Regions from separate parts of the Homo sapiens genome. Here regions 2, 3 and 4 are each reported to be linked to region 1. Evidence: microRNA targets listed by miRTarBase, many of them from high-throughput screens and not tested one by one. Region 1 holds a microRNA gene; each other region holds the end of a gene's coding sequence.
What was found. The annotated mature microRNA hsa-miR-939-3p reads CCCUGGGCCUCUGCUCCCCAG and lies in region 1 at 2,266-2,286, opposite strand. An mRNA with a match to its seed (bases 2 to 7 or 8) in the 3' UTR can be bound and repressed. Matches are read on the target gene's strand: a 7mer-m8 pairs with bases 2 to 8, a 7mer-A1 pairs with bases 2 to 7 and ends in A, and an 8mer does both.

Region 2: the mRNA of ORC1 is a reported target of hsa-miR-939-3p. Seed matches in the 3' UTR shown: 7mer-m8 at 2,364-2,370.
Region 3: the mRNA of SSH3 is a reported target of hsa-miR-939-3p. The part of its 3' UTR that is shown has no 7-base or 8-base seed match.
Region 4: the mRNA of AS3MT is a reported target of hsa-miR-939-3p. Seed matches in the 3' UTR shown: 7mer-A1 at 3,849-3,855 and 7mer-m8 at 3,625-3,631.

The regions. Positions count from the first base shown.
Region 1 is chr8:144,391,896-144,397,143 of GRCh38, forward strand. It overlaps MIR939 (microRNA 939), which reads right to left and starts at 2,335; the gene lies at 2,254-2,335. ADCK5 (aarF domain containing kinase 5) reads left to right here. Exons shown (of 15, transcript NM_174922.5): 10 at 46-127; 11 at 197-275; 12 at 359-450; 13 at 550-802; 14 at 881-997; 15 at 1,074-1,347. The coding sequence ends at 1,179. CPSF1 (cleavage and polyadenylation specific factor 1) reads right to left here. Exons shown (of 38, transcript NM_013291.3): 24 at 4,945-5,034; 25 at 4,703-4,846; 26 at 4,453-4,605; 27 at 3,540-3,656; 28 at 3,370-3,460; 29 at 3,203-3,287; 30 at 2,987-3,128; 31 at 2,749-2,901; 32 at 2,484-2,660; 33 at 2,339-2,405; 34 at 2,218-2,265; 35 at 1,988-2,143; 36 at 1,772-1,901; 37 at 1,557-1,695; 1 more. The coding sequence ends at 1,423. RefSeq lists silencers at 2,286-2,447, 3,800-4,013.
Region 2 is chr1:52,370,741-52,373,740 of GRCh38, forward strand. ORC1 (origin recognition complex subunit 1) reads right to left here. Exons shown (of 17, transcript NM_004153.4): 17 at 2,089-2,635. The coding sequence ends at 2,441. Among named protein-coding and RNA genes, the nearest start is that of CC2D1B, 6.0 kb to the left of the region's middle.
Region 3 is chr11:67,310,201-67,315,732 of GRCh38, reverse strand. SSH3 (slingshot protein phosphatase 3) reads right to left here. Exons shown (of 14, transcript NM_017857.4): 13 at 5,394-5,532; 14 at 3,141-4,142. The coding sequence ends at 3,846. Among named protein-coding and RNA genes, the nearest start is that of SSH3, 9.4 kb to the right of the region's middle.
Region 4 is chr10:102,899,332-102,904,863 of GRCh38, reverse strand. AS3MT (arsenite methyltransferase) reads right to left here. Exons shown (of 11, transcript NM_020682.4): 11 at 2,965-4,271. The coding sequence ends at 4,164. It overlaps BORCS7-ASMT (BORCS7-ASMT readthrough (NMD candidate)), which reads right to left. Exons shown (of 15, transcript NR_037644.1): 15 at 2,965-4,271. LOC107984265 (a long non-coding RNA gene) reads left to right here. Exons shown (of 3, transcript NR_160733.1): 2 at 4,354-4,470; 3 at 5,392-5,532. Among named protein-coding and RNA genes, the nearest start is that of CNNM2, 16 kb to the left of the region's middle.

The sequences.
Region 1 (5,248 bases):
GGCGGGCTGGTGCTGTGTCCACTGCAATGCCTCTCCTCTCCCCAGATAGCAGAAAAGCTCATCAAGGCCTTTGCTGAGCAGATATTTTACACCGGCTTCATCCACTCGGACCCACATCCTGGCAACGGTAGGAATTTACCCCAGGGGTGGGGGTCTCAGGGTGGGCGCAGCGCGACCTAAGAGGCTGTATCCCTAGTTCTGGTGCGGAAAGGCCCGGACGGGAAAGCGGAGCTGGTGCTGCTGGACCACGGGCTCTACCAGTTCCTGGAGGAGAAGTGAGCGCGGGTGGGTGGGCGTGGGGCAGGGCAAGCCTCTCCTGCCGCAGGGAGCTCATGGCTGCGGGCCCATCCACACCCAGGGACCGCGCAGCCCTCTGCCAGCTGTGGCGGGCCATCATCCTGCGGGACGACGCCGCCATGAGGGCGCACGCAGCCGCACTGGGGGTGCAAGGTGAGGGCGTGCGGGGATGGCTGGGGCACCACAGAAGGGAGTCGGGCGGCGCGGAACCCACTCAGAGCCCCCTCCCTCCCTCCCTCCCTCCCTCCCCAGACTACCTCCTGTTCGCCGAGATGCTCATGCAGCGCCCCGTGCGCCTGGGGCAGCTGTGGGGCTCGCACCTACTGAGCCGCGAAGAGGCGGCCTACATGGTGGACATGGCCCGCGAGCGCTTCGAGGCCGTCATGGCGGTGCTCAGGGAGCTGCCGCGGCCCATGCTGCTGGTGCTGCGCAACATCAACACCGTGCGCGCTATCAACGTGGCCCTCGGCGCCCCCGTGGACCGCTACTTCCTTATGGCTAAAAGGTCGGTGGCCCGAGGAGGCGCCCGGGCCGTGGTGGGGCTGGTGTGGGGCTGACGCGGCGCTAACGCGGGTGTGTGCAGGGCTGTCCGGGGCTGGAGCCGCCTGGCGGGCGCCACGTATCGGGGTGTCTACGGCACCAGCCTCCTGCGCCACGCCAAGGTCGTCTGGGAGATGCTCAAGTTTGAAGTGGCGCTCAGGTGAGTGGCCGCGGGGCAGGTGGGTGGCGGGGGCCTGCTCCCCACCCACCTGTGACCTGTGACCTGACCCACGCAGGCTGGAGACCTTGGCCATGCGGCTGACCGCCCTCCTGGCTCGTGCTCTGGTCCACCTGAGCCTCGTGCCCCCAGCGGAGGAGCTCTACCAGTACCTGGAGACCTAGGGTGCAGCCGCCCAGGGCCGGCGGGGCCCTTTTCACCTTGGGCTGACGGAGGTGGCGGGGCTAGAGGTGTAGACACCCCGAGCCCCGTGGGCACTCGCACTGGGGGGCTGTGACAGCAGCTGGGCCAGGAGGCCGTGTAATGACCACACACTCCTCTCAAGCAAAAAATGTTTTTCCTTGTGTTTTGTACAAAAAGGGGGTGGGAGGTAGTTCCGTGTGCTGGTGGTGACGGCATCCACGGGGCTAGAAGTGGGCGGTGACGCGGTCCGTCTCCAGCAAGTCGTCCAGGATCTGCAGGGGATGGAAGGGTGGGTGGGTGGGTGGGTGGGGATGCACACGGAGGGGCGGGGCGCGCGGGGGGCGGGGCGCGCACTCACTATGTCTGGTGTGGTGCCGATCTTCTTGGCTAGCTCGCTGCGCTCCATGGTGCTCAGGTACAGGTAGCGGTTGAGCAGCTCCCCATCCAGCACGTTGCGCACGGCATTCTGGAGGGTGCGGCGGTCCACGTGCAGCATCCTGGGGCGTACAGGCACAGGTGTCAGGGCAGGCTGGGGTGGAGGGGGTGCTGCACGGGGGCGGGGCCGGGGCTCACCGGAAGGCGCGGGGGTTGAGGCCGGCGTGGTGTGGCAGCATGGTGGTCAGCGCGTTCTGCAGCATCAGCAGCCGCCGGTAGGTCTTCTCCTGCATGGGCAGCAGCAGCCCGATGCCGCCGTCCAGGGTGGCTGGCAGGGGTAGGGTGAGGGTTTTGGTGTGAGCCAGGCCAACCCTAGGGCCCCCCACCCAGACACACCTGCTCCCCCACACTCACCAAACCACGTGATGTGCTTATTCTCCCACACGACCGACTTTTTGCTGAGCCCTTCAGTGGCCCCCCGGCACGGGGTCCTCCAGAACGTGTTCACGTGGGCACCCACGTGGAAGTCTGCCCGACGCAGCAGGCGCATGCCCCCGAAACTCTCCTTGGCTAGACCAGAAAGGCCTAGGGGTCACTGCTAGCCCAGCCCCGGCCCAGGCAGAGGGGGTGGAGGAAGCACTCACCTTCGGGCAGGTACATGTACACCATGAGGTTGCGGTCGCGGTCAGACACTGGGGAGCAGAGGCCCAGGGTCAGCCCCGGCCACCCCCAGAGCCTCAGCTCCCCAGGGCCCTGCCCACATACCCAGAAAACCCAGCTGGGCATTGTCCACCATGAAGTCCACGCTGTACACCTCCAGGGGCTTGGCATCCTGGGGGCGGGAAGGGGGCGTCAGAGGTGCCTTGGGCGGGTACCCACCCAGACACGAGCACCGCCGCCACAGGTGTACCCGCGACACCAGGCTCAGCGTCTTGCTTTCCTCCTGGTAGCGCAGCAGCGAAATGCTCTTCATGACGTCGGCTGCCAGGATGAAGTTCTTGACGCTGATCATCTGGTGTATGTAGAGCTGCGTGTCGATGAAGGCCATGCCCGTCAGCTCGCTGGCCCGCAGGCTCCACAGGAAAATCTGGGGGCGAGGGCGAGGGTGAGCGGGCGCGGACGGGGAGCCGGGTGAGGGTGAGCCGGGGGACACACGCCGGGTGGGACTGGCACACCTTCTGGCCGATGGCCGACACCAGGTGGCCATTGCAGTGGCACAGGGCGGTCACGGGCCCCTTCTGCTCCTTCTCGTAAAGGACTTTGAACTTGTTCTTGGTCAAGGGCTGGCCAGGCTCGGGCACCACCTCAATCACATCCATGATCAAGATCTGGAGGGCATGGGTATGGCTGTGGGATGGCTGTGGGGATGGCAGAGGGGCTGCCAGTTCCCGCCCCCGCTCACTGGCCCCTTACCCGCCCTCGGCACGTGACCTCCTCCCCCTGCATGAGGCAGGTCCCGGCGGCCACGTAGCCTTTGAGGCCCGACACGGTCTCCTCACTGCGCAGAGACACTGTCTTCATGCAGGTCACATGCTCCCACTCCTGCAGCTCGATCCTGTGGGGGCCAGGGGCCTCAGGATGCTGCCTGGAGGCCTTGGGCAGACCCCACCCCCGCCGGCCCAGCCTCACCTGGCATTGGGAATAGCCTCCCAGCTGACCGGGGAGATGAGCTGGATGGAGAAGGCCTCCTGCTGGGGGTGGATGTACCGCTCATCTGTGGGGACCAAGGGTGACAGTCAGAGTAGGGCTTCCCCAAGATGCGGCTGAGGATGGGAGTATGGTGTGGGCGTCACCACCTCTCTCGATGGTCTCAAACTCCTTCTCCTCGCCAGTCATGCGTGGGATGCGGGCACACGGCGTGTTGGTGCTGGTGGCCACAGCATACACCTGTGGGTTAGTGAGGGTCACACACCAGTGGCCCGGCCAGGCCCAGAAGGTCCCTGGTGGGGTGGGGGTGGGGGCAGACCTTAGACTCCACGTGGTAAGCCACATAGTGGGCCGTGCAGCGCAGCGGGATCTTCCTGACAGGCCATGGGGCATCATAGGACAGGTAGGCAGGCAGGACACTGATCCTCAGCTCGCCCTGGGGTGGGGGCACAGGGGTCAGGGGATCCAGGGCTAGCCAAGGGCAGGGGCAGGCAGGCCCAGGCCGCCAAGAGCCCTGGGATGTTGCCCTCAGCTCTGTGGGAGCAGGGGTGGGTGAGGGGCAGCTGTGTCCTGGCGAGGTCCTGGAAGGGGCTGCCACTCAGCCTCTGGGGCTCCTCCTGTCCATTTTCCCACGCTCAGCTGGGGCTAGGGGTGCTGGCCACAGGGGATGGGAAAGCTAGGCCAGGAGGGCACTGGAGGCTGCAAAGGGCAGCCCACAGACTGCCATGCTGGGGACTGAAAACCAGGCAGAGGGAGCCAGGGCTGCCCTCTTTCATGGACAGTCCTGAGTCCTCAGGCACCCAGGAAGCACTCACCGCATCCCAGGCAGGGTCTCAAGTGACCTGGTGGTGTGGTGGCTTAAATAGGGAACCAGGATGAGAAAGCCTGTGTGCCCTCCCAAAGTCACAGAGCAGCCAAGGGGCAGAGCTAGCACTCACGTCAGCTCTCCTGAGAAGTGTGGAGGCCAGGCCCTGCGAGGGCTTGCCCGGCGAGCCGGCAGAGCAGTGGTGGGGACCCCAGGGGCTGCAGCCCCAGCTCCCAACCACCCCTTTCCAGACCTTTGGAGCAACCAAGTCACAGGTTCCACCTCCTCGACCTCAACCCCATCGCCCTCTGGACACTCCTTCCTGGTCCTCAGGGTGGAGCCAATGGTCCCTTCTCCTGTCCCCTCCCCCTCAGCCCCCAGCTGGGGCAGCATCAGCCAGTGCTGCTGGGAACCGGCCGGGCCCCACCTGTCTGTTGAAGTACAGGAAGCCGCGGGGACAGTTGACATTGTGGAATGGAGCGAAAGAGTCGACCGGGCCGTCGATGGCCATGGGGTGTAGCCGCAGAGCCCCTCGGCCGGTCACCAAGAGCCAGTGAGGGGAGGGGCCGCAGATGAAGACCTGGGGGCAGGCACCGTGAGGATGCTGTGGATGAGGATGCTGCGGATGAGGCCGCGTCTCCCTTCTACCACAGACCCCTGCAAAGGCGCTGGCCTACCCCTGAGTAGCCATAAATATCCTCGAAGTAGCGGAAACGCGCCACGCGGCCCCGGGCCCCAGCCCCCTCCTCTGCGCCGCCACCTTCTGCTTTCTTCTTGGATGGCTTTGGCTTCTTCTCACGGAAGTTGATGTTGTGAGGGACCTGGGGGGGAACCATGCAGGTCCTCCAGGGGCTGCCGGTCTGAAACCCACACCTTGTACCACACCCACCCCACGCCCCAGCAGTCCAGCCACTGGCACCTTCTTAAAGCGGACTTTGAGATTGCCCTGGCCGAGCTGAGAGTCGTGGGGGAAGGCCTCGTAGATAAGCAGCTCTTGGTCCACATGCACCTGGCAGGATGAGGGGAGCCATGGGGGAACGGGCAGGGCCATGGAGAACATGGGATGGGCCATGGGAAGAGGTGGGCTGTGGGTAAGGGGCGGGGCTGAGATGGGGTGGAGCCATGTATGGGAAGGGGCGGGGCTGTGAGGGAGATGGGGTGGAGCCACGGGAAGGGGCGGGGCCGTGGGGGAGATGGGGTGGAGCCACGGGAAGGGGCGGGGC
Region 2 (3,000 bases), not on the chromosome of region 1:
GGGGCTTCACCATGTTGGCCGAGCTGGTCTCGAATTCCTGACCTCAGGTGATCTACCTGCCTTGGCCTCCCAAAATGCTGGGATTACAGGTATGAACCACTGTGCCTGGCTCATTTTTTCTTTTTCATTGCAGTTTTAAAAATATTGATATTGATCCTCAATCCATTATATGTAATTATAAATACATATGTGAATATAGAAATACATATTTTTGCTAAATGATTTGAGAATGAGTTGCAGACATAATACATCACTTATAAATATTTCATTATGAATCTCCTAAGAACAGCATTCTCCTACATAATCACAAATTTATCACGCTCGGGGAATTTAACACTTACAAAATACTTCTGTCTAATACATAGTTAATAATGTTTATAATTGTTTATATTTCCTAAATCCAGGACCCAGTCAAGGTTTATATAGTGCATTTAGCTCTCATGTCTCTATTCTCCTTTGGTGTAGAATAGTTCCTCCATGTTTTGTGTTTTTTTTCTTGTGATATTAGTATTTTCAATGAGTTGAACAGCTGCTTTGCAGAGTTTCTCCCTAAATTTAGATTTGTCTGATAATTTTCTCATCAGTAAATTTAGGACAAGCATTTCTGACAGGACTAGTACACGGGTGGGGCTGTTTTTTTTCAGTACCTCATATTAGGTTTTATTTATTTTTTTCAGACGGAGTCTTGCTCTGTCGCCCAGGCTGGAGTGCAATGGTGTGATCTCAGCTCACTGCAACCTCTGCCTCCTGGGTGGGTTCAAGCAATTCTCCTGACTCCCAAGTAGCTGGGACTACAGGTGACACCACCACGCCAGACTAATTTTTGCATTTTTAGTAGAAACGAGATTTCACCATATTGATCAGGCTGGTCTCGAACTCCTGACCTCAGGTGATCCACCCGCCTTGGCCTCCCAAAGTGTTGGGATTACCGGCATGAGCCACCCACGCCCAGCCTCAGTACTTCATGAGGTTTTAGATGTTCATTGCCTGTTGTTGGTTTCCATATAAATATTAGAATTAACTGCAAAGTCATACAAGAAACCTTGCCAAGATTTTGATTGGAATTGATTTCTATCTAGAGATTACTTGCATCTCTTTATTAGACTTATTCCTAGGAGACGGACATGGTGGCCCACACCTGGAATCCCAGCTACTTAGGAGGCTGAGGCAGGATTACTTGAACCCAGGAGGTTAAGGCTGGAGTGAGCTATGATCCATTACTGCATTCCAGCCTTGGTGACAGAGGGAAAAAATAAATAAATAAATAAATATTTAAATCAATTTATTTCTAAGTACCTTATATTTTCTGTGACATATAAATCTTTTGTATTTAAAGGTTTGTTTTGTTTTTATGGTAAATGGTACCTTTGTAAAAATTACACTTTCTAGCTATTTGTGGCTAGAGATTACTTATGATTTATATTATTTCCAGTAGTTCCTTTTTTATAAACTATATTTTATTTATTTATTTATTTATTTATTTTTGAGACGGAGTTTCACTCTGTCGCTCAGGCTGGAGTGCAGTGGCGCGATCTCAGCTCACTGCAAGCTCCGCCTCCCGGGTTCATGCCACTCTCCTGCCTCAGCCTCCCGAGTAGCTGGACTACAGGCGCCCGCCACCACAACTGGCTAATTTTTTTGTATTTTTAGTAGAGACAGGGTTTCACCGTGTTAGCCAGGATGGTCTCGATCTCCTGATCCACCTGCCTCGGCCTCCCAAAGTGCTGGGATTACAGGTGTGAGCCACCGCCCCTGGCCTAAATTTTATTTATATTATTTGAAACTTAAGACAGATAATGACATACAGTGAAAAGTCCTCCTCTAACCCCTAACCCTGGCCATCTGATTCTTTCCATCTGATTCTTTCCAGAGGTAATCAGTGTAACCAGTTTTTTGCATACTCTCCCAGAACTATTTTATATAGATACAAGTAAATCGTGTACTTATATTTTATATATGTTAGCATTAAATAAATGGCAGGCCTAGTAACAGAAATAAAAGTCACATGGAAGGACTATTGTAGGAAGGACAGTTTGGTTTCATAATCAGATGTTTGTAATGATTATAATGTAATAACTTCACAAACACTCAGGAAAAAGCAAATTATTTAATGGAAAATTCCAAAATACATGAGAGCCATTTCCATTCAATATACTTTGTTACAACAATTCCATGTACTTCCAAAATCAGATGCTTTGTAGACTAGCTTGGCAACATGGTGAAGCCCTGTCTCTACAAAAAATCAGCTGGGCATGGTGGCATGTGCCTGTAGTTTCAGCCACCTGGGAGGATGAGGTTGGGGGGTCACCTAAGCCTGAGAAGTCAAGGCTGCAGTGAGCCATGATCGTGCCACTGCACTCCAGCCTGGGCGACAGAGCAAGACCCTGTCTCAAAAAACAAAACCCAGCAAGACCCCAGTCTTTTAACTTGTGAAGCCCCTTTACTCGTCTTTCAGCGCATACAGCACATCATCCTGGCTGACGTTGAGCCGCACCCGAAGGAGCAGATCGTTCCTGCTGGGCTCCACAAGCAGGAGGCGACAGGAGCCCAGGTGAGAACACACGGCCATGGTCTCTGACATGGTGGGGTACGGCAGTCCCTCCATTCTGCACAGTGCCACATGTTGACTATATATCTAGACACAAATAGCAAGGCAAAGGTTAAGAGGAAATACAATCCTGGGGCTTTTTCTGTTCCTTTCTTTCTTCATTTGGGAAAATCAGACACATGGCCCCCAGGATATCAAACACTCCAGAAGGCATCAGTTGGTGCCCCAGTGGTACACAAAATGCAGAGGCAGAATGGAATGCTAGCCTTGGAATCAGAAAACAGCAGGCCCGAATCCTGGTGCTACCATTTACCTAAATATGTAGACCTGGCCAAGTTACTGCACTCTTTTGAGCTTCAATTTTATCTATAAAATACACTGTACATCCCTTGTGAGTTAATGGATATAAAATGACTAGTAACTCTCACTGGTGATACAAATAGTCTTGTCTC
Region 3 (5,532 bases), not on the chromosome of region 1:
ACCACCGGGGAGGAACCTGCACATGGTCAGCTACCCAGAGCTCCAAGAAGCCAGTCCTCTTGGGTTTTTAATGGAAGCTTCATGACATCAGCATTCCTTACACCAGGGTATAGAGTGAGGAGGAGGGTCTCTCTGGGGAGGGTCTTATAACCCACAATCTGAAAGTGAGGGTGAACAGTAGAGCCCTGCCTTGGGGCAAGGGAGAGGAGGGCAGAATGTCAAGAGGTTGTTTCCTGCGGCCTGCTCCTGAGGCCTGACACACTCAACATTAGAACAAAAGACTGAACAAGGGCTATGAGGGTTATGAGCCAGGAGCCTGGATGAAAACCAATGTATATATAACACCACGGTACCGATGTGGAACTCTGATATGAACCAATTTTCAAAGTGTAGAATAGTATGTTAACATGCTATTGTCTGTATTTTTAAAAAATACACATACCAATATATTTGATTACATAAGCATGGGGTACCTGGAGGGCATCAAAGGCAGCTGGTAACAAGTCATTGCCTGAGTAGATGTGAAGGACTAGAGGACAGAGTAGGAGTGAGATTTACTTTTCATTTTATATCCTTCTTATTATTTTTTGCCCCTTTAGCAATTTGGGTGAGCTTTGTGTATACATAGGGTTTTTTTTATTTTTATTTTTTTTTGGAGACGGAGTCTCACTCTGTCACCCAAGCTGGAGTGCAATGGCGCAATCTTGGCTCATTGCGACCTCAGCCTCCCAGGTTCGAGCAATTCTCCTGCCTCAGGCTCCCAAATAGCTGGGATTACAAGTGCACGCCACCACACCCAGCTAATTTTTGTATTTTTAGTAGAGACAGTGTTTTGCCACATTGGCCAGGCTGGTCTCGAACTCCTGACCTCAGGTGATCCAACCACCTTAGCCTCCCAAAGTATTGGAACTACAGGCGTGAGCCACTGCACCCAGCCAATAGGGTTCCTAATTGTTTGTAGTTTTGTTTTGTTTTGTAGAGATGGGGTTTCACCATGTTGCTCAGGCTGGTCTCGAACTCCTGGGCTCAAGCAATCCGCCTGCCTCAGCCTCCCAAAGTGCTGGGATTACAGGCATGAGCCACCACACCCGGCACCCTCTTGTCTGTATTTTTGATGCGGTTTCCCCTCCAGTCTTCATTTCCCTGTTTGCTGACTTCTTACTTCTTAGAATCCTCCTGGATTCTAGTGGATTCTAGTGAGCCCCACAGCTCTGAGTTCCTGATTGGACCTGCCTTCTGAGATGCACAGGCTGCAGGAGGGGCAGGGCCTGGCCTTGGCTTACCCCGACACTCTCACCACCACCCCACCCATCTGCAGCCCTAGGCCAGGAATACTGAAAGGGCAGCCTGGGTAGGACTCCTAGTTGGCCACAGAGTGGGGGGTAGCCCCCAGTGTTTGCTCAGCAGGATGGATCAAGAATCAGAACTAGCTTGCATGTACCCCACATCTTGTGACCCTTAGGCATACCACCCAGATAGGTGCCAAGGATTCCTCTTCTGGAAGGGAGGTAGAGGCTAATCTAGCAATGTCTAGATAGCATGTATTGTTAAAATGTATCAAAGTGTAGCCAGGCGTGGTGGCCCTGTAGTCCCAGCTACTCAGGAGGCTGAGGCAGGATGTCTTGAGCCTGGGAGGCAGAGGTTGCAGTGAGCTGAGATCACCCCACTGTACTCAATAATAAATAAATAATAAATAATATAAAATGCATCAAAGTGAAGAGGGGTACTTGGGGATTTCCAGGTCTAATCCCTTTATTTTACAGAAAGAAACAGAGACTCAAAGCAAAGTAATTCATAAGTGGTGAAGCTGGGGCTAAATCCAAGTCTCCTGCCACTGCGCACTTCAGGGTTAGAGCAGTGCTAGGAGTCCCACCAGGGCCTGGGTGAGAGATTCATTCTTAAAACTGGGCGTGAAGTCTCAGTCACTGAGAATGCTTGGTGCCAGCTCCCATCTCTAAGGACTGCTTTGAGGGAAGGAGTTGAATCCGGCCCCTTCCCCAAACCAGGGTAATGTATCATAGAGCAGAGAGCATACATAATCTTGGGAAGAGGGATAGAAGTGACAAAGATGGGCCAGGCGCAGTGGCTCACGCCTGTAATCCCAACACTTTGAGAGGTCGAGATATGCAGATCGCTTGAGCCCAGGAGTTCGAGACCAGCCTGGGCAACATGGTAAAACCCCGTCTCCACAAAAAATAAAAGATAAAAATTAGCTAGGCATGATGGCACATGTAGGTAGTCCCAACTACTCAGGGGCTGAGGCAGGAGGATCCCTTGAGCCCGGGAGGTTGAGGCTGTAGAAAGCCAAGATCATATCACTGCACTCTATTCTGGGTGACAGAGCAAGACCCTGTCTCAAAAAAAAAAAGGAAGTGACAAAGATACAACCACTTAGCTAGGTGTGCCTGTGGTCCCAGCTACTCAGGAGGCTGAAGTGAGAGGGTCTCTTCAGCCTGGGAATTCAAGGCTGCACTGAGGCATGATCGTGCCGCTGCACTCCAGCCTGGGCAACAGAACCAGACTCTGTCTCAAAAAAAGAAAAAAAAAGATGGAATGACTAACTCTTCTTGGACACTAAAGTTGAGCAGAAGGAACCCCTGGGCAGGAGGGGAAGTGTCACCAAGGGTCCTTCTTCCCAGGCCGCAATAGCCTGGCTTGGAAAGTCAGGCCCTTTGCTTTGTAGCAGGAGGAAGGTGATTCTTGGGACCCAAAACATGCCAGAGAACCTGGCGCCGAGTGTCCCAAGGAGGCTTCGCTTTTGGAACAGGCTTGGTCCTGTCCAGGTAGGCACTTCCTCATGAGTAACCCCTTCCAGCTCTCACAGTGGAGCCACATGCCTGCTGCCCGCTGACGACTTCTTCCCTTGCCCGACCTGTCTGAGCGGGTGGGTGTGAGCAGGTCATATTTACCAGGCCCTGCCCCAGGAGATGGGGAGATAGCACTGACTTCCTCTCTTCTCTTACCCAATCTTCCTCCCACGCCACGCCCAAACACGGCACTCCCCCAAATAGGTCTGTCACGAGCCACCTTGGAATTGTGAGGAGACTGCTGGGAGGAAGGGGCGGCCACCTTCCCCAGCCAGCAGAGAAGGGTCTGACTGCAACACAGATGGCTTCATCGTCACATTGAAAATAACCAAATATGAAAATGTGTTTTATTTCTCAGTACAAAGCCAGATACTGTAAGGCTATGAAAAACTGACTAGCCAGAGGCCAGAAAGGACAAAAAGAAGACTATCTCTGGCCTGGTGCCCTGTGATCTGGCGTGGTGTCACAGGAGGTCTGGGGACAGCAGCAAAGACCTGGACCGGTGGAGGTGGATGAGGGAAGCGATCTGCCAGCCCTTCCAGCCTCCCGCGGCTGGGGCCTGAGGATCCTGCCTGCCTTTGGGGGCCACTGGTTGCCTGGCCTGGCTGGTTCCAGGAATGAACTGGGAGAGGACAGGAGGTGCAGGGAGGGGGCGGGGGTGGGAGGCGTGACCCTTTTTGCACGGGAAGCTCTGTTTTCATTCCGTGCCACAGGTGAGTGTGCAGGGCTAGAGTTGAGAATGAAACTAGGGTGCTGTTGCCCCCAAAGGTACCTTCAGTCCCTCTACCACATCCCAGTTAGAAAGTCTTGAGCCCTTGGACAGGCAGACATGGGCCTGGGACTTAAGGCTGTAGGAGGTGAGGCTGTAGTGACAGGGGTGGGAGGTGAGGCCGTAGTGACAGGGGTGGGAGGTGAGGCTGTAGTGACGGGTATGGGGCGGAGCTGAGAGGAATGTGTGCGGCAACAGACGTGAGGGTGTTTCTCCAAGGAGTTGTGGATCCTCTTCAGTGTCAGGGGAGCGTGGGCATGTGTGAGGGCTCAGGCCTCGCCCTCCTCTCCACTGTCATGCACGCTGGCCTGTCTCACCACCTTCCGGAACCTGGGCGTAGAGGAAATGCAGGGCTCTCCCTGCCCCTGCCCCTGCCCCTGCTCCTGCTCCTGGAAGGCCTGGGTCCGGTTGGCCACCACGGCACTGCCCTGGAGGGTAACCACTGACTGGCGGGACTTCAGGGCAGGCTGAGGCCCCCTGTCCACCTGCTGGCCTCCCTTGGTCCTTGCAAGCTGTGGGAAGGGCTGCAGAGGCTCTTCATGTGAAGACTCGTGGGAAGAGAAGACCTGGACAGGTGTGAGGATACGGAAGCCATGGGAGGCCTTTCTGGGGCAGGGGTGCCCAAGCACAGAGCCGGGAAGATCTGGGGCAGGGGTGCCAAGCACAGAGCCAGGAGGAGGCGAGGGCCGGAATGTTTGTGGCACGCACGCCAAAAGCCAAGCTGTCCACAGCCACGCTTCCTCGGGAGGGAGGACAACACCCCAGCCCTGCTGCCCCGCTCCTTGAACCCTACCTGCTTGTAGCTTCCTTCTGGCCCCCAGAAGCCCTCCTCAGCTCCCTGGAGACCCAGGCCTCCCTGCCCTCCTCCCCTCCTATGCTTTCTCTGCCTTTGCGTAGGCAGCCGGCAGGTGAAACCCGTGCCGGCACCAGCCCCTGAGCTGGGCTGGGTGGATGCGTGCGTCCGGTGCTGGGTGAGGACCTCTTGCCTTTAGCAACGCCCACACCCGCCCATCAACCCACCACGCCTCCCTATCCTTCCCCACCCACACCTCCTCCAGGAAGCCTCTCCCAAATGTTCCTGCCCTCAGTGGATGCTCCTTCCTCCAAGTCAGCCATTTGGCCTTGAGTCCCAGACAGGGCCTGGCTCCCAGGCTTAGGCTTGTGCCCGCAGCACTGAGCATCAAGGGTGCTGACTTAGGCAGGACTTGGGCGGCGTGAGTGCGCAGACTCCTCCCCACCCCATCCTTTGAGGTGCTGCTCCTCAGACCAGGGAGGGGCTTCAGAGATTAATTTAGCCTCCCCACCATGGGGTTAGAGATCGCCCCCAGGGCCTGCAGGGGCCTGTGGAGCTCATGGCCTGGGGAGGCAGCCCTGCCCCTGAGACAGCTAGTCCTGTGGTCAGGCTGGAACCTGCCCGCGATCGAGGCTGGGGCTGGCTCACCCAGGAGCCTTGGAAACAGGCACTGCTTCCTGCCCTGCCCCCGTGACCCCTCTCCAGCCTGTGCCTACAGTGCCTCCGCCTGCCCTCACTGGATCTCAGCTGCTCTCAGGGGCCCAGGACGTGGCTGGTCCCCATCTTCAGGGGTATTCATGGGACAGGCTGGAGACGCCGGGTGCTAAGAGATACTGGGCTGACTGTGAAGGAGGCTGGGACCAGGCCCCCTGGGTCCTCCCAGGACACCCTGCATGGGCGGGCCAGACTTAGCCCGGGTACGCCCTGCTCAGGTCTACAGTCAAACGCCCATCCTGGTCTTTCCCCATCTCCCTCCTTATGGCCCCCACCCCTGCAAGCTGAGCTCCCCCAGCCCCAGCCTCACCTCTGGCATGTCACTGGTCTCTGAGGTGCTCTCCAGCTCCAAGGAGGGCTCCAGAAGACTGATGGACCTCATGACCCCTCGGAGGTTTATACGTGGCCGTGGCCCAGGCTCTTCTTTCGGGGCTGCCTGGCTCTCTTCC
Region 4 (5,532 bases), not on the chromosome of region 1:
GGCAAATCACAGAAGTCAGGACAGGTACCAACAAAGTTTAGAAAATACACTCAGCAGTTTTTGTCCTCTTGGCCCATGGGGTTCATAATATTCCATTTTAGCAACCAGTGCCTAGGACAGTGCCTGGTACACAGGAGATAATACTATTTAGTGAATGAATGAAAGAAAGGATAGACAGTTCCCATACCTTGCCAGACTCATTTAATACAATTCCCATCTTAACATGGCAGAATGAGTGACTACCTCAGCTGCTTCCCTGGAGCCATCCAAGTAAAGGCCAAGAATAAATAGGAGGAGCAGGCTCTGGGGCTGTCTTGGCACAAAGCCATGCCCTTTTCAGCTATGCATGGCTGGATGTGGGGGTGGGGGCCTGTTGAGGCTACTGCTGGGCCTCCCTGAGTTGGTAAGCTGAAAAGTTTCTGCAGCCTTCCATGATTCTTTTTTTTTTTTTTTAATTTTTTTTTTTTAGGCTGGGCACAGTGGCTCACACCTGTAATCCCAGAACTTTGGGAGGCCAAGGCAGGTGGATCATGAGGTCAGGAGTTTGAGACCACCCTGGCTAACATGGTGAAACCTCGTCTCTACTAAAAATACAAAAATTAGCCAGGTGTGGTGGTGTGTGCCTGTAATCTCAGCTACTCGGGAGGCTGAGGCAGGAGAATCACTTGAACCTGGGAGGCGGAGGTTGCAGTGAGCCAAGATCATGCCACTGCACTCCAGCCTGAGCGACAGAGCAAGACTCCGTCTTGAAAAAAAATAAAAATAAAAAAATATAAAATTTTTATTTTTTAGAGATGGGGTCTTGCTAAGTTGCCCAGCCCAATCCCATTACTCAACATCTTTTTGGGGAACTGAGAGTTCAGAAGGACAAGTAAAAAGCTAATACCCTCTCCTTGTAAATGCCAAAAAGCCCAATAAACCAAATAAACAAAACACCCCCCCCCTTTTTTTTTTCTGAGACAGAGTCTCGCTCTGCCACCCAAGTTGGAGTGCAGTGGTGTGATCTCGGCTCACTGCAACCTCCACTTCCCAGGCTCACTGCAACCTCCACTTCCCAGGCTCAGCCGAGTCTTGTGCCTCAGCCACCTGAGTAGCTGAGATTATAGGCCTTGGCCACCATGCCTGTCTAATTTTTGTATTTTTAGTAGAGACAGAGTTTTGCCATGTTGGCCAGGCTGGTCTTGAACTCCTGGCCTCAAGTGATCCACTCGCCTCAGCCTCCCAAAGTACTGGGATTACAGGCATGAGCCACCACACCCAGCCAACAGAACACCCTTCAATCAATTCCCCCCAAGCAGGGCCATCTTGTGCTCATGAAGAGCAAAGTATGCTTATTCCAGCTGTACCATTGTAGCTAATGCTGTAATGTACCATTTTCACATTAAAGTAGGTTACGACTAGATAGATACGGCACCCTAGAACCAAGCAAGCATGTTTAAAATTAAGGTCATGGAGGTGAATAGGGCTTAAAAAAATACTACCTAGTTCTTTCCTCTGTCTGTAATAGTAAGTTAGGCTCTATAGCTGAACCTACTCAAAAATTTGAGAATTTCTCCATATTAAACAGCTTTCTTAAAACAGAAGTCTATCCTACGGAATCCATTCCAATGTTTTACATGCCTTAAAATTCTCAAACCCCTAGTCCGAAATCCCCTGGACCATGCCATGCCCCTGGTTGTTTTTGTACTGAGCCCAGGGCAACTGGTTGACATCTTATCAAAACCCTTGATTGGTTGAAGGCTATTTATTTATTTATTTGTATTTATTGTTTTTGAGACGGAGTCTCGCCCTATTACCCAGCCTGGAGTGCAGTGGCGCAATCTCGGGTCACTGGAACCTCCATCCCCTGGGTTCAAGCAATTCTCGTGCCTCAGCCTCGAGTAGCTGGGATTGCAGGCGTGCACCACCACACCCAGCTAATTTTTTGAATTTTTAGTAGCGATAGGGTTTCACCATGTTGTCCAGGCTGGTCTCGAACTCCTGAACTCAAGCAATACACCCACCTCGGCCACCCAAAGTGCTGGGATTACAGGTGTGAGCCACCGCGCCCAGCCTGAAGGCTGTTATTTAAAAACTGAATTATCCAGCTCCTGATGATAATGACCATCACTTATACCTTTCTGTGTCCTCCAATAAAGTCTTCAAGTACAGCTGGAATTCAAATTATTTACCATCCTTGAACCTTTCTTTAATGTTCTTAATATTCTTCTTTAACTATGGAAAAACTGAATCTATCATTTTGCTAAAAGTTTAACCAGGACACCTTATAAAGAAAAAGAAAACCTACCATTTTTACATCTCTTTCCTCCCTCCCCTCCCTTCCTCTCTCCTTCCCTTCCTCTCTCTCTCTCTTTCTTTCTTTGACAGGGTCTCACTCTGTCACTCAGGCTGGAGTGCAGTGGTGCGATCTTGGCTCACTACAACCTCCACCTCCCAGATTCAAGCAATTCTTGTGCCTCAACCTCTCGAGTAGCTGGGATTACATGCACATGCCACCACACCCGGCTGAGTTTTGAATTTTTAGTAGAGATGGGGGTCTCACCATGTTGGTCAGGCTGGTCTCGAACTCCTGACCTCAAGTGATCCACCCACCTTGACCTCCCAAGGTGCTGGGATTACAGGCGTGAGCCATCGCACCCAGCCTATTTATTTATTGTTTTTTAGAGACAGGGTCTTGCTCTGTCACCCAGCTGGAGTGCAGTGGTGCAATCATAGCTCACTGCAGCCTGGAACTCCTGGGCTCAAGCGATCCTCTTGCCTCAGCCTCTCCAGTAGCTGGGACTACAGGTACATACCACCATGCCTGGTCATTTTTACATCTTTTAGCTCTCTTTTTAAAAAACGATCGAACTCTATTCCTGACCCAGTTAGGATAATTTACAATAAATAATCACTATGTCATCAGTCATTAGGGTGAGATACTTATGATTCATTTGTTTTCTTGAGATACTTGATTCAAAGATGTTTATGATTAATTTGTTTTCTTTATTGCAAAAAAAAAGAAAAAAGAAAAAAACATTTGTTCAAAAGCTACCTCAAAAGTCCTCCTACCAAACATGATTTGGCAATCTTTTTGCATGATTAGTATGATGGCAGTAGGAGCTTTGTTTAATAAGCAAACATGATGAAAATTCCAAAAGGTGCTATGCAAAAGATCAGAAGGAAGATGTTTTTCCTGAGACCCTCTGCCAACTGTTACTTCTTCTGATGCCTTTCCTGCTTCTTGAACAAGGCTTAAGACAGCTTCTCTGTTCCATTTCTGACCACTATGTGGCACCAGAACTTTGAAGTAGGAAATAGAAAAAAAATCTGCTTAACTAGTGATTTGCTGTGAATCTTTAATCAATGCCTCTTAAAAATAATTCATTTATGGCCGGGCGCAGTGGCTCATGCTTGTAATCCCAGCACTTTGGGAGGCCGAGGCGGGCGGATCACGAGGTCAGGAGATCAAGACCATCCTGGCTAACATGGTGAAACCCCGTCTCTACTAAAAATACAAAAAATTAGCTGGGCATGGTGGTAGGTGCCTGTAGTCCCAGCTACTTGGGAGTCTGAGGCAGGAGAATGGCGTGAACCCAGGAGGTGGAGCTTGCAGTGAGTTGAGATGGGGCCACTGCACTTCAGCCTGGGCAACAGACCGAGACTCCATCTCAAAAAAATAAATAAATAAATAAAAATAATTCATTTATTTTTTTCAGTGATTTGGAATATGGTGGCTCTCTGCCATTTGTTGTTTTCTTTTTCTTTCTTTCTTTTTTTTTTTTTTTTTTTGCTTTTGAGACAGAGTCTTGCTCTGTTGCCCAGGCTGGAGTACAGTGGCGTGATGCTTACTCACTGCAGCCTCTACTTCCTGGGTTCAAGCAATTCTCCTGCCTCAGCCTCCCGAGTAGCTGAGACTATAGGTGTGCACCACCATGCCCAGCTAATTTTTTTTGTATTTTTGGTAGAGACAGGATTTCACCATGTTGGCCAGGCTGGTATCAAACTCCTGACCTCAGGTGATCTGCCTGCCTCGGCCTCCCAAAGTGCTGGGATTATAGGCATGAGCCACTGTGCCCGGCCCCATTTGTTGTTTCTTATGGTCTGTGCTATGGGGAAAAGCAGGTTAAAAAACATGCAGATCACTCTTGCCCACTACTGTGGTCCCCTGGTTGGCTATAGATTTAGCAGCTTTTCTTTGTGCCACAGCAGCCTCCAGCAGCATCAGGGACACATCTGGACTTCATACTGTCAGACTCTTCTGCAAGCTTAAATGGATCTGTGATTATATCCTGTCAAAAGGCAAACCAAAATGAAAGGACAAGTTAAAGGTGTTTTGATGTACCCAAACACTAATATTTCTGTTTGATTTAGGTTGACTTACACAGAACAGAGATAAAATTTTACAATTCCATGAGATCCTGGGAGTAACATCAGTCATTCTGCCATAAAGGCACTTGCTTCCTGAAGCTTCTAATTACAACTTTCAAGGTAAACTTCACTTAAAGCTTCTTAAAGATGGTCCCTCTTGGGCAGAGCATTGATTTTTGCTCAGTTGATTTTGTTTTGTGGGGTTGTCATTTGCACGTGCCTTTTAAACCTCTTTGGAACTGAGATACGGAAATGCTAAAACGACTTCTCTTCCCTTATTCTAATCTCCAGAAACATTTATACCAAACAGGAAAGTGAGTCCCAGATGTAGGGCTGTCACTAGCAATTGCTGATGCTCAGATGAAATTGCCAACAATGGCCAGACAGATCTCAGAGTAGAGTAACATAAGACTGCTGTATTTATTTAAAAGACAAGACTGCTGTATTTATTTCCCCTCCTTTCACCTCCAAATGAGATACCTCTAACAATAGTACCAGTGGGGCCAGAGAAAAGCCAAGTACAAAGATAGGAAATCAAGAGCACAGGGTCTGGGCACGGTGGCTCACGCCTGTAATCCCAGCACTTTGAGAGGCCGAGGCCAATGGATCACCTGAGGCCAGGAGTTTGAGACAAGCCTGGGCAATATGGCAAAATCCCATCTCTACTAAAAATACAAAAAATTAGCTGGGTGTGGTGGCACGTCTGTAGTCTCAGCTACTCGGGAGGCTGAGGCAAGAGAATCACTTGAACCTAGGAGGTGGAGGTTGCAGTGAGCTGAGATCACACCACTGCACTCCAACCTGGGTGACAGAGCGAGACTCCATCTCAAAAAAAAAAAAAAAAGCATGAACATGCCACTTTAAATAATGGTAATGAATTCATTATAACATAAATTTACAGTCCTACTACTTATTCTGGTCACTGCAAATAGAGGGGTGTACAAGGCAGGCACAGACTCTACATTCATGAAACTGATAGACTGGTGGACCCTTTACTAAAGTGACTGACTTCCTGCTGGCCTTGGTCTCTCTGTCCCTCAGTGTCTACCTTTCTGAAATGAAGAGGTCTGCCTGCATCTGGTAAGATGAGCATCTGGCAGAGGATCTCCAAGCCTGGAAGAAGGCCAGCTCTGCTGGTTGCTACTGCTAGGACTTCACATCAATTGCATTTCCATCTCTCAG